3 separate regions of the Homo sapiens genome follow, and regions 1 and 3 are each linked to region 2. Evidence: fine-mapped QTL for protein levels in blood plasma. A gene starts in region 2. Each other region holds a variant in brackets. All regions are shown on one strand. Distances are from middle to middle. Region 1 has its middle 21 kb from the start of SAA4. Region 2 holds the start of SAA4 (serum amyloid A4, constitutive). Region 3 has its middle 14 kb from the start of SAA4.

The links. PIP is the posterior inclusion probability: the model's chance that the variant is causal. The UK Biobank Pharma Proteomics Project read protein levels with antibody pairs (Olink). The fine-mapping took linkage between variants from a reference panel, not from the people measured, so its PIPs are less certain.
Region 1: its variant is fine-mapped to the plasma level of the SAA4 protein (UK Biobank, PIP above 0.99).
Region 3: its variant is fine-mapped to the plasma level of the SAA4 protein (UK Biobank, PIP above 0.99).

What each region holds. Positions count from the first base shown.
Region 1 is chr11:18,214,235-18,216,997 of GRCh38, reverse strand. No RefSeq gene overlaps it. Among named protein-coding and RNA genes, the nearest start is that of SAA4, 21 kb to the left of the region's middle. The variant G/A (reference allele first, on the strand shown) is at 1,306.
Region 2 is chr11:18,235,602-18,238,364 of GRCh38, reverse strand. SAA4 (serum amyloid A4, constitutive) reads left to right here and starts at 1,563. Exons shown (of 4, transcript NM_006512.4): 1 at 1,563-1,648; 2 at 2,435-2,529. The coding sequence starts at 2,439. SAA2-SAA4 (SAA2-SAA4 readthrough) reads left to right here. Exons shown (of 6, transcript NM_001199744.2): 4 at 2,435-2,529. It also overlaps a transcript of SAA2 not described here.
Region 3 is chr11:18,221,068-18,223,830 of GRCh38, reverse strand. No RefSeq gene overlaps it. Among named protein-coding and RNA genes, the nearest start is that of SAA4, 14 kb to the left of the region's middle. RefSeq lists an enhancer at 1,855-2,355. The variant G/T (reference allele first, on the strand shown) is at 1,456.

The sequences.
Region 1 (2,763 bases), 21 kb after region 2:
TATTAAGTGCCTTGAGGTAGTGTTCTTTGAGTTAATTCTGCCTGGTGTTCTATAACCTTCTAGTACTTGGATATTAATATTTTTCTCTAGGTTTGGGAAGTTCTCTGTTATTATCCCTTTGAATAAACTTTCTACCCCATCTCTTTCTGTACCTCCTCTTTAAGGCCAATAACTCTTGGATTTGCCTTTCTGAGACTGTTTTCTAGATCCTGTAGGTGTGCTCCATTGGTTTTTATTCCTTATTCTCTTGCTTTTTTGATTATTATTATTATTATTTTTTCAGACAGAGTATCACTCTGTTGCCCAGGCTTGCTGCAACCTCTGCTTCCTGGGCTCTAGTGATTCTTGTGCCTCAGCCTTCCAAATAGCTGGAACTACAGGTGCACATCACCACACCCAGCTAATTTTTGTATTTTTAGTAGAGATGGGGTTTTGCCATATTGCCCAGACTGGTTTCAAACTCCTGGCCTCAACCAATCCACCCACCTCAGCCTCCCAAAATGCTGGGATTATAGGCATGAGCCCCTGCACCCAGCCTGTTGAGTATTTTCAAATAAGCTGTCTTCAAGCTCACTAATTCTTTCTTCTGCTTCATCAGTTCTGCTATTAAAAGACTCTGATACATTCTTCAGCATGCCAATTGCATTTTTCAGCTCCAGAATTTCTGTTTAATTCTTTTTAATTATTTCAGTATCTTTGTTAAATTTATCTGATAGAATTATAAATTTATTCTCTGTGTTATTTTGAATTTCTTTGAGTTTCCTTAATGCAGCTATTTTGAATTTTCTGTCTGAAAAGTCACGTATCTCTATTTATCCAGGATAGGTCTCTGGTGCCTTATTTAGTTCATTTGATGAGGTCATGTTTTTCTAAATTGTGTTGATGCTAATAGATGTTCTTCAGTGTCTGGGCACTGAAGAGCTAAAGTATTTATTGTAGTGTTCTGTCTGGGATTTTTTGTACTCAACTTTCTTGGGAAGCCTTTCCAGATATCTGGACAGATTTGAGTATTTTGATCTAAACTGTATGTGTTTTAGCAGGCATCCCAAGACCAGTAAAGCTGTGGTTCTTGCAGACTTGTAGAGGTACTGCCTTGATGGTTTTGGACAATATTCAGGATAATTCTCTGGATTACCAAGCAGAGACTCTTGTTCTCTTCTCTTACTTCTCCCAAACAAATTGAGTCTGTCTCCCTGTTCTAAGCCACCTAAAGTTGGGGGTGGAGTGACACAAGCACCCCTGTGGCCACAACCACTGTGACTGGTCTGGGTCAGACCTGAAGCCAGCACAGCACAAGGTCTTGCC[G/A]AAGGTCTGCTATAACCACTCTCTGGCTACTGCCTATGTTCACTCAAGGCCCTGGGGCTCTACAATCAGCAGGTGGCAAAGCCAGTCAGGCCTGTGTCCTTCCCTTCAGGGTGGTGAGTATCCTCAGGTTCCAGGTGGGTCTAGAGGTGCCAACCAGGATTCAGGGACTAGAGTCCAAAACCTTAGAAATTTACCTGTTTTCTATTGTACTACAGCTAGGGTGGCACTCAAACCACAAGATGCAGTTGTTCCCACTCTTCCCTCCCCTTTTTAAAGGCAAAGAAGCCTCACCCCGTGGCCACTACCACCACAGGCTTACAGGTAGTACCACCAGACTAATACCAATGTTCCCTTAAAGCCCAAGGGCTCTTTAGTCAGTTTGTGGTGAATGTTGTGTGGCTTAAAAGTCACCCTTCAGAGCAGTGGGGTCTCCTCTGTCCAAGGGCAGGTCCAGAAATGCCAAGAGCCACGTCCTGGAATTGGGCACCCCAACAGCCTGCTTGGTGCTCTACCCCATGTGGCGCTGGTGGCACCTGTGCACCAGTGCAAGGTGAAGCCTCCTTTACTTTTTCCTCTGATTTTCTCAAGCAGAAGGAGTTTCACTCCATCGCCACCACTGCTGGTAATGTGCTGAGTGTCACCTGAAGCAGCAAGTCCTGAGGCTCACTCAAGGCCCTCAATATAGTACCTGGGTATTGCTGCTGGTTATTCAGGGCCCAAGGGCTCTTCAGTTAGTGGGTGATGCATGGCGCCAGGACTGGGTTTTTCTTTTCAAAGCTGTGGGTTCCCTTCAGGCCAGGGTGTATCTGGAAATGTTATCCAGGAGCCAGGGCCTTGTGACTCTGACTAGTGCCCTATTTTTCTGTGGCTGGGTGGGTATTCAAGATGGAAGACAAAGTTCTCCCCACTCTTCCCTCTCATCTCCTTAAGTGGAAGGCTGAATTCTCTTTTGGAACCACAAACTGTGCAGCCTGGGCTTAGGGGAGGGTGATACCAGCACTCCCTTAGCACCCCAGCTGGTGTCTCAGTAATTTGTCTGCCCCTACGTGCCGTCCTTGCCCAGTCCACTGTGTCTGGGCCTGATTCAGCACTAGGACTCACCTAAGAGTTGCAGTCTGTATTAGTCAGAGTTTTCTTTCTTTCTTTTTTTTTTGACTTGAAAAACAAACTTTATTCCAAATTATCCAAAAAAAGTGTTAACTCTGGAACATTTAACAGATTTCATTTAAACTCATATGGTCATAAAACTCAAACTATCAAACAAAAATAGCAGTGTGTGCTTAACCACTTTTAATAATGAACCTTTAAGAGGAAACATTTAGAGACTCCCACAAAATTTGGGAGCCACTAGGCAACATGTATTTAATATTAAACAAAGACAGCATTAAAAACTAAAAATCCTCAAATTTCAAGAGAATGCCTGTTCAAGTCTTTGATATGCATTTGCACATGATAAAA
Region 2 (2,763 bases):
TCATAATCAGAAGATAAATAAGCTGGGAAAAATATTTGTAACTCATATCCTAGATAACATACTCATTTTCCCTGTATATAAAAAGTTTCTCTAATGTGATAAATAAAAACACAATAAACCAGTAAAAAATGACTACTTTGATATGAAGGTATGAATTCACAATTCCTAGAAAATAGAAATAGCTCTTAAACATGTGGAAAGATGTGAAACCAAAATCATAATAAGAGAAATGTAAATTAAAATTACTTTGAGTTTTATTTTACTCACAATTTCAAAGACCAAAAAGTTTGAGAGTATACTGTGTGAGAGACAATGTGGAACCAAGTTCTTTCACTCATTTCTGGTGGGAGTAGAGATTGATACAGCCCTCATGGAAGGCAATTTGCAACATATAAAAATTTATAAAATCTAGGGCCAGGGACGTTGGCTCATGCCTGTAATCCTAGCACTTTGGGAAGCCGAGGTGGGCAGATCATTTGAGGTAAGTGGGTCGAGACTAGCCTGGCCAACATGGCGAAATCCCGTCTCTCTTAAAAATAGAAAAATTAGCCTGATGTGGTGGCATGTGCCTATAATCCCAGCTACTCAAGAGGCCGAGGCAGGGGAATCTCTTGAACCCCGGAGGTGGAGGTTGCAGTGAGCTGAGATCATGCCACTGCACTCCAGCCTGGGGGACAGAGTGAGACTCTGTCTCAAACAAACAAACAAAAAATTTATAAAATCTGATACTTTTTCACCATGGAGTTTCTTCTGTAGGAATTTATCCTAGAGATATATTTGTACATGTGCAAGAGACATATGTACAAGGTTAATAAATGCACCATTATTTGTAATATCAAAAGGTTAATAACTGTCAAAACAGCCATTAATATTGTATAAATTATGGTCCATCCATGCAATGGAATACTGTGTAGCTGTAAAAAAAAAAAAAAAAAAAGCAACAAGCCCGACATGGAAAGACTTCCAATAAATAGTAAGTTTAAAAGAAAGTGCAGAATAATACATATTTATATGAAAAAAGAGTTTTTATGCCTCAAAGGCCTTCACCCTTGATCTTCTGGTGTTATTCCTGTCCTTGTATTCTCCCAGAATCATTACCTCATCCCATGAATGGTACAGTCAAGTCTTGCTTGTTCTGTGTCCTTACATTCTTTAGAGAGAAGTCACAAGAGACAAGCAAACATCTCTTTTGCTAATAATATTGATCACTTCCTACAGCATAATATCTATGTGCAATTTTTTGGGAAGACCTCCTACTAAACAGTTAAGAATGGAAAGACACAAAGAGAAGAAAGTGGAGAAAGACCTCTGTCTTCCCACACTGGATTTTGCAAATACAACTCTTCTGTGATACAGGAAACTAAAAAGAGGGAAAAGTGGCAATTAAGAAAAACTGCCAGAAAATAAATACCTTGATGACCCAATTTGGAAAACTACTTCTAGATAAGGAAACACTATTACCCAATATGTTAATTTTTAAAATACCCAAAGAATTGAGCAAAAAGGACTTTGGCAAGGCAGGTTGTTGGATTTAAAACCGTTCTCCCATTAATGCCAAAGCCAGCAGAGGTACCAACTATAGCTCCACGGCCAGAAGATACCAGCAGCTCTGCCTTTACTGAAATTTCATCTGGAGAAAGGTCCACAGGTGAGGTTTCTTCCAAGGAGTAATTTCTCTTATTTGACTCTTTTGAGATCCTTTTCTCACATAATTGTCAAATTTCAATTGGAGAGAAACTGTGTTTTCTACCTCATTACGGGGTCAGTGCTGAGGAGAGTAGGAACTCAGGAAATGCTTCTTGATTGACTTTAGTCTGCTGTATTGGGTGACAAATTGACCACAGACCAAATAACACGTTGGAATCCTCTTATTCTTTCTAGAGATCTGGGCTGAGAATTAAGGGTTTATGCTTCTTCTTAAAACCCGTTTCAATCTTTCATGCAGTTATGATTCTCATACAAACAAATGGAAATGGGGAATTAGTCTTTCAAATTCAGTCCTTTGGCTGGCACAGTGGCTCATGCCTGTAATCCTTTGGGAGGTTGAGGTAGGAAGATTGCTTGAGGCCAGGAGTTCGAGACTAGCCTGGGCCGAACATACATACCAAGACCTTGTCTCTACCAAAAAAAAAAAAAAAAAAATTAGCTGAGTGTGATGGTGCACGTTTGTAGTCCTTAATACTCAGGAGGCTGAGGTGGGAGGATCACTTGAGCCCAGAAGGTCGAGGCTGCAGTAAGCCTTAATCATATCATTGCACTTTAGCCTGGGCAATAGGAAAAAAAAAAGAAAGAAAGAAAGGGAGGAAAGAAAGAAAGGAAGGAGAAAGAAAGAAAAGGAAAAAAAGAAAGAAAAAAAGGAAAGAAATTCAGTCCTCAAAACATAGATCTGTGTTTTTTTTTATGATCCTCTGCCCCTGTCTTTCTTTCTCTTCAGCACAATGAGGCTTTTCACAGGCATTGTTTTCTGCTCCTTGGTCATGGGAGTCACCAGTGAAAGCTGGCGTTCGTTTTTCAAGGAGGCTCTCCAAGGTAAGAACTCTGGAGGATGGAGGGCACATACCCAGGATTCATTCTGAGCAGGGGCCACATACTCACTGGATGTGAGTGCTCCTTAGAGAAGCCACACAGAGGTCAGAGCAGGAGTGTGGTTTTCTGTATCTGTTTCTTCCTCTAGGCTGGTCTGATTTATCACCCTCCCTTGGGGTTTCCAGACGAGAGGTTAAAGATGCTTTGGGCCCAGCCTGTACTCTTGGTGTAGAGTGC
Region 3 (2,763 bases), 15 kb after region 2:
GCCAAGTTTAGGTTGCAGCTATATAGCATTTGGTTAATAATCCCAACACTTAATCCTATCAGACCAGATTTGAATTTCAGCTTTGTCATTGACTCTGTGGTAGCTAAGGGCATGACATGAAAACATGCTTATGTTAAATTGCCAAATGAAAACGTGGACTATAAAATGGTAGATATTGTATCACTTGGTGTTTATGTATTCATATATCTATAAACACTTAGAAAATAGATTAGAGACCAAGTATGAAGATTCTACAGTGGTTCTCCTTACCCCTCCCCCAGCCTTGGCTGATGAAATTAGTATTGCTTTTTATTTTTATCCTTATACTTATTTTGTATTTTTCAAGTTTCCATCAGTGAACATGTCCACTCAGCTAAGACTCGTTCAACCGACCTATGTCACGGGCACCTTCGCAGGTACTGAATATCCATAGTGAAAAACCCAACTACACTGTTCCTGTCCTGATTGGGATTCCAGTGTTCAGACAAGGACAAATAACAAATATTTTATTTATAATATAGTTTAGAGTTTATAACCCTCTCTCTTTTTCTTTCTCTCTCTCTTTCTCTCTCCTTCTATGGACTAGAGGGTGCGATGAGAATGAGGAAGTGGTTGGTTGCTGAAGCCAATTCTGTACACAAACACAACACATATACAACACACACACACAATACACAAATACACCACACACACACCACATACATACACCACACAGACACACACACCACACACACACATACACAGACCACACACACATACCACACACATACACCACTCACACACACACACCCCCCACACACCCCATATACTCCATACACACAGCACATACACACACCACACACCCCCAACACCCCCTCACACACACACACCACACACACACCACACATATACACACCACACACATACACCACATATACCACACACACACACTCTCCACACACAAGACGCACACCCCCCCCACACCACACACACATACACACACCACACAGCAATACATATGCAAACACATAGGTACACATAATGCATACAAATTAATAAAGATTGCAATGAAATATGCTCCATATTCCAATAATCCTTACTCTGACCTTTTTCCCCAGTGTGATTCGTTTCTTCTCAGGCCTGCTTATCCATCAGGATTAACCAATGGAATTTAGGCAGTTGACCTTGAGAACTAGAGGCCCTACTAATTTCTGGTGAAAGAAGTTTCTTCAAGATAAGGAAGAGAAAATGTTCCATTTTCTCCTGTAGCTGCTAGATCAGCAGTTAGGATAATAAAAGCTGTACTTACAAAAGTTCTTTCTTTTTTTTTGAGATGGAGGTCTCAATCTGTCACCCAGGCTGGAGTGCAGTGGTATGCCTGCAACCTCCACCTCCCGGGCTCAAGCAATCTTCCCACCTCAGCCTTTTGAGTAGCTGGGACCACAGGCATGTGCCACCATGCCCAGCTAGTTTTTT[G/T]TTTTTTTTTTTTGTATTTTTGGTAGAGATGGGTTTTGCCATGTTGCCCAGGCTGGTCTCAAACTCCTGAGCTCAAGCGATCCACCTGCCTCAGCCTCCCAAATTGCTGGGATTACAGGTGTGAGCCACCGCGCCTGGACACAAAAGTTATTCCTAACAGGAATTTTGTAAAACAACAGCAGCAACAACAACAACAACAACAAAAAACACCTCAGAGATTGTTACTATGTCCTGTGAAACCCTATAATATCTTATTTAATGTTTAGACTTTAATCTATACCTTTGAAACAAAATCATTATTTTGATGGAATCTACTAGACTAGAAAAAAATGATGTTGGATTGTGCCAAGTTTTGGCAAGGATGTAGAGCTATAGAAATCCTCCTGTACTGCTAGAGCATGTAGATGGGTTATCATCCTGGAGAGCAGTGTGACACTTGGAAGTAAAAGAAAGACATATGGACTAACAATATCACTCTGTTGATATACACGGTGATGGCAATGGTGGCCTGCCTGGTGTGGGCACTGCCAAGATGCTGTCAGCAGCAAGGAAGGCGCAACTGGGCTGTGGGCTCTGCAGAGCCAGAGAGAGCCAGGAGCAGACAGGAGCCTTGCCCTCCTGGGTGTGGCTGCACCTGCCCAAGCTGTGGCTGTGGACCTGGGAATCCCTGTCCTCCCCTGTGCTCTTGAGGGCTGGGAGCAGGCAGGAGCCCCACTCTCCCAGGTGTGGCTGCAGCTGCCCAAGACATGGCTGCGGACCTGGGCCTGCACTCTTGGCCCCCATCCCTGCAGGCTCGGAAGTGCCTACCACTGCTGCCTGGCCTCTCCCCACTCCCGGTGTTCACTCTGATCTCAGAGCAAAGTTGAGGTCAAGCCTGGGCACTGTCATCACCCGGCTGGGAGTGCACACACTTGGGGCAGTGCTGACATGCCAGCCCCCTGCTGCCTCAGCCCCCTCTGGACTTTGGGCATTGATGAGCACAGGAGGGAGGCAAAGGTGGCTGCTGAAGGCAGCTCAGTGATGGCCTGCAGGTGCCCCTCTGCACAAACAGCCTGGGCACCATGAACAGTGGCAGGAGGCAGACAGGCTCCTGGGCAGAAAGGCGCAGGTCCCTGGTGAAGCCCTACCTTTAAGCCAGGGATGACTGGAAGCCTGGGGGCCAGGCTGCCAGTTCCATGGACCAGAATAAGAACTTATAGTGCCTTTTCCAGGCCTGTCCATGGCTACCTGTGGGCCAATCAGCATGCACTTCCTTCCTTCTCAGCCCATAAAGACCCCAAGCTCAGCCAGACTCAGACACTCCACAGG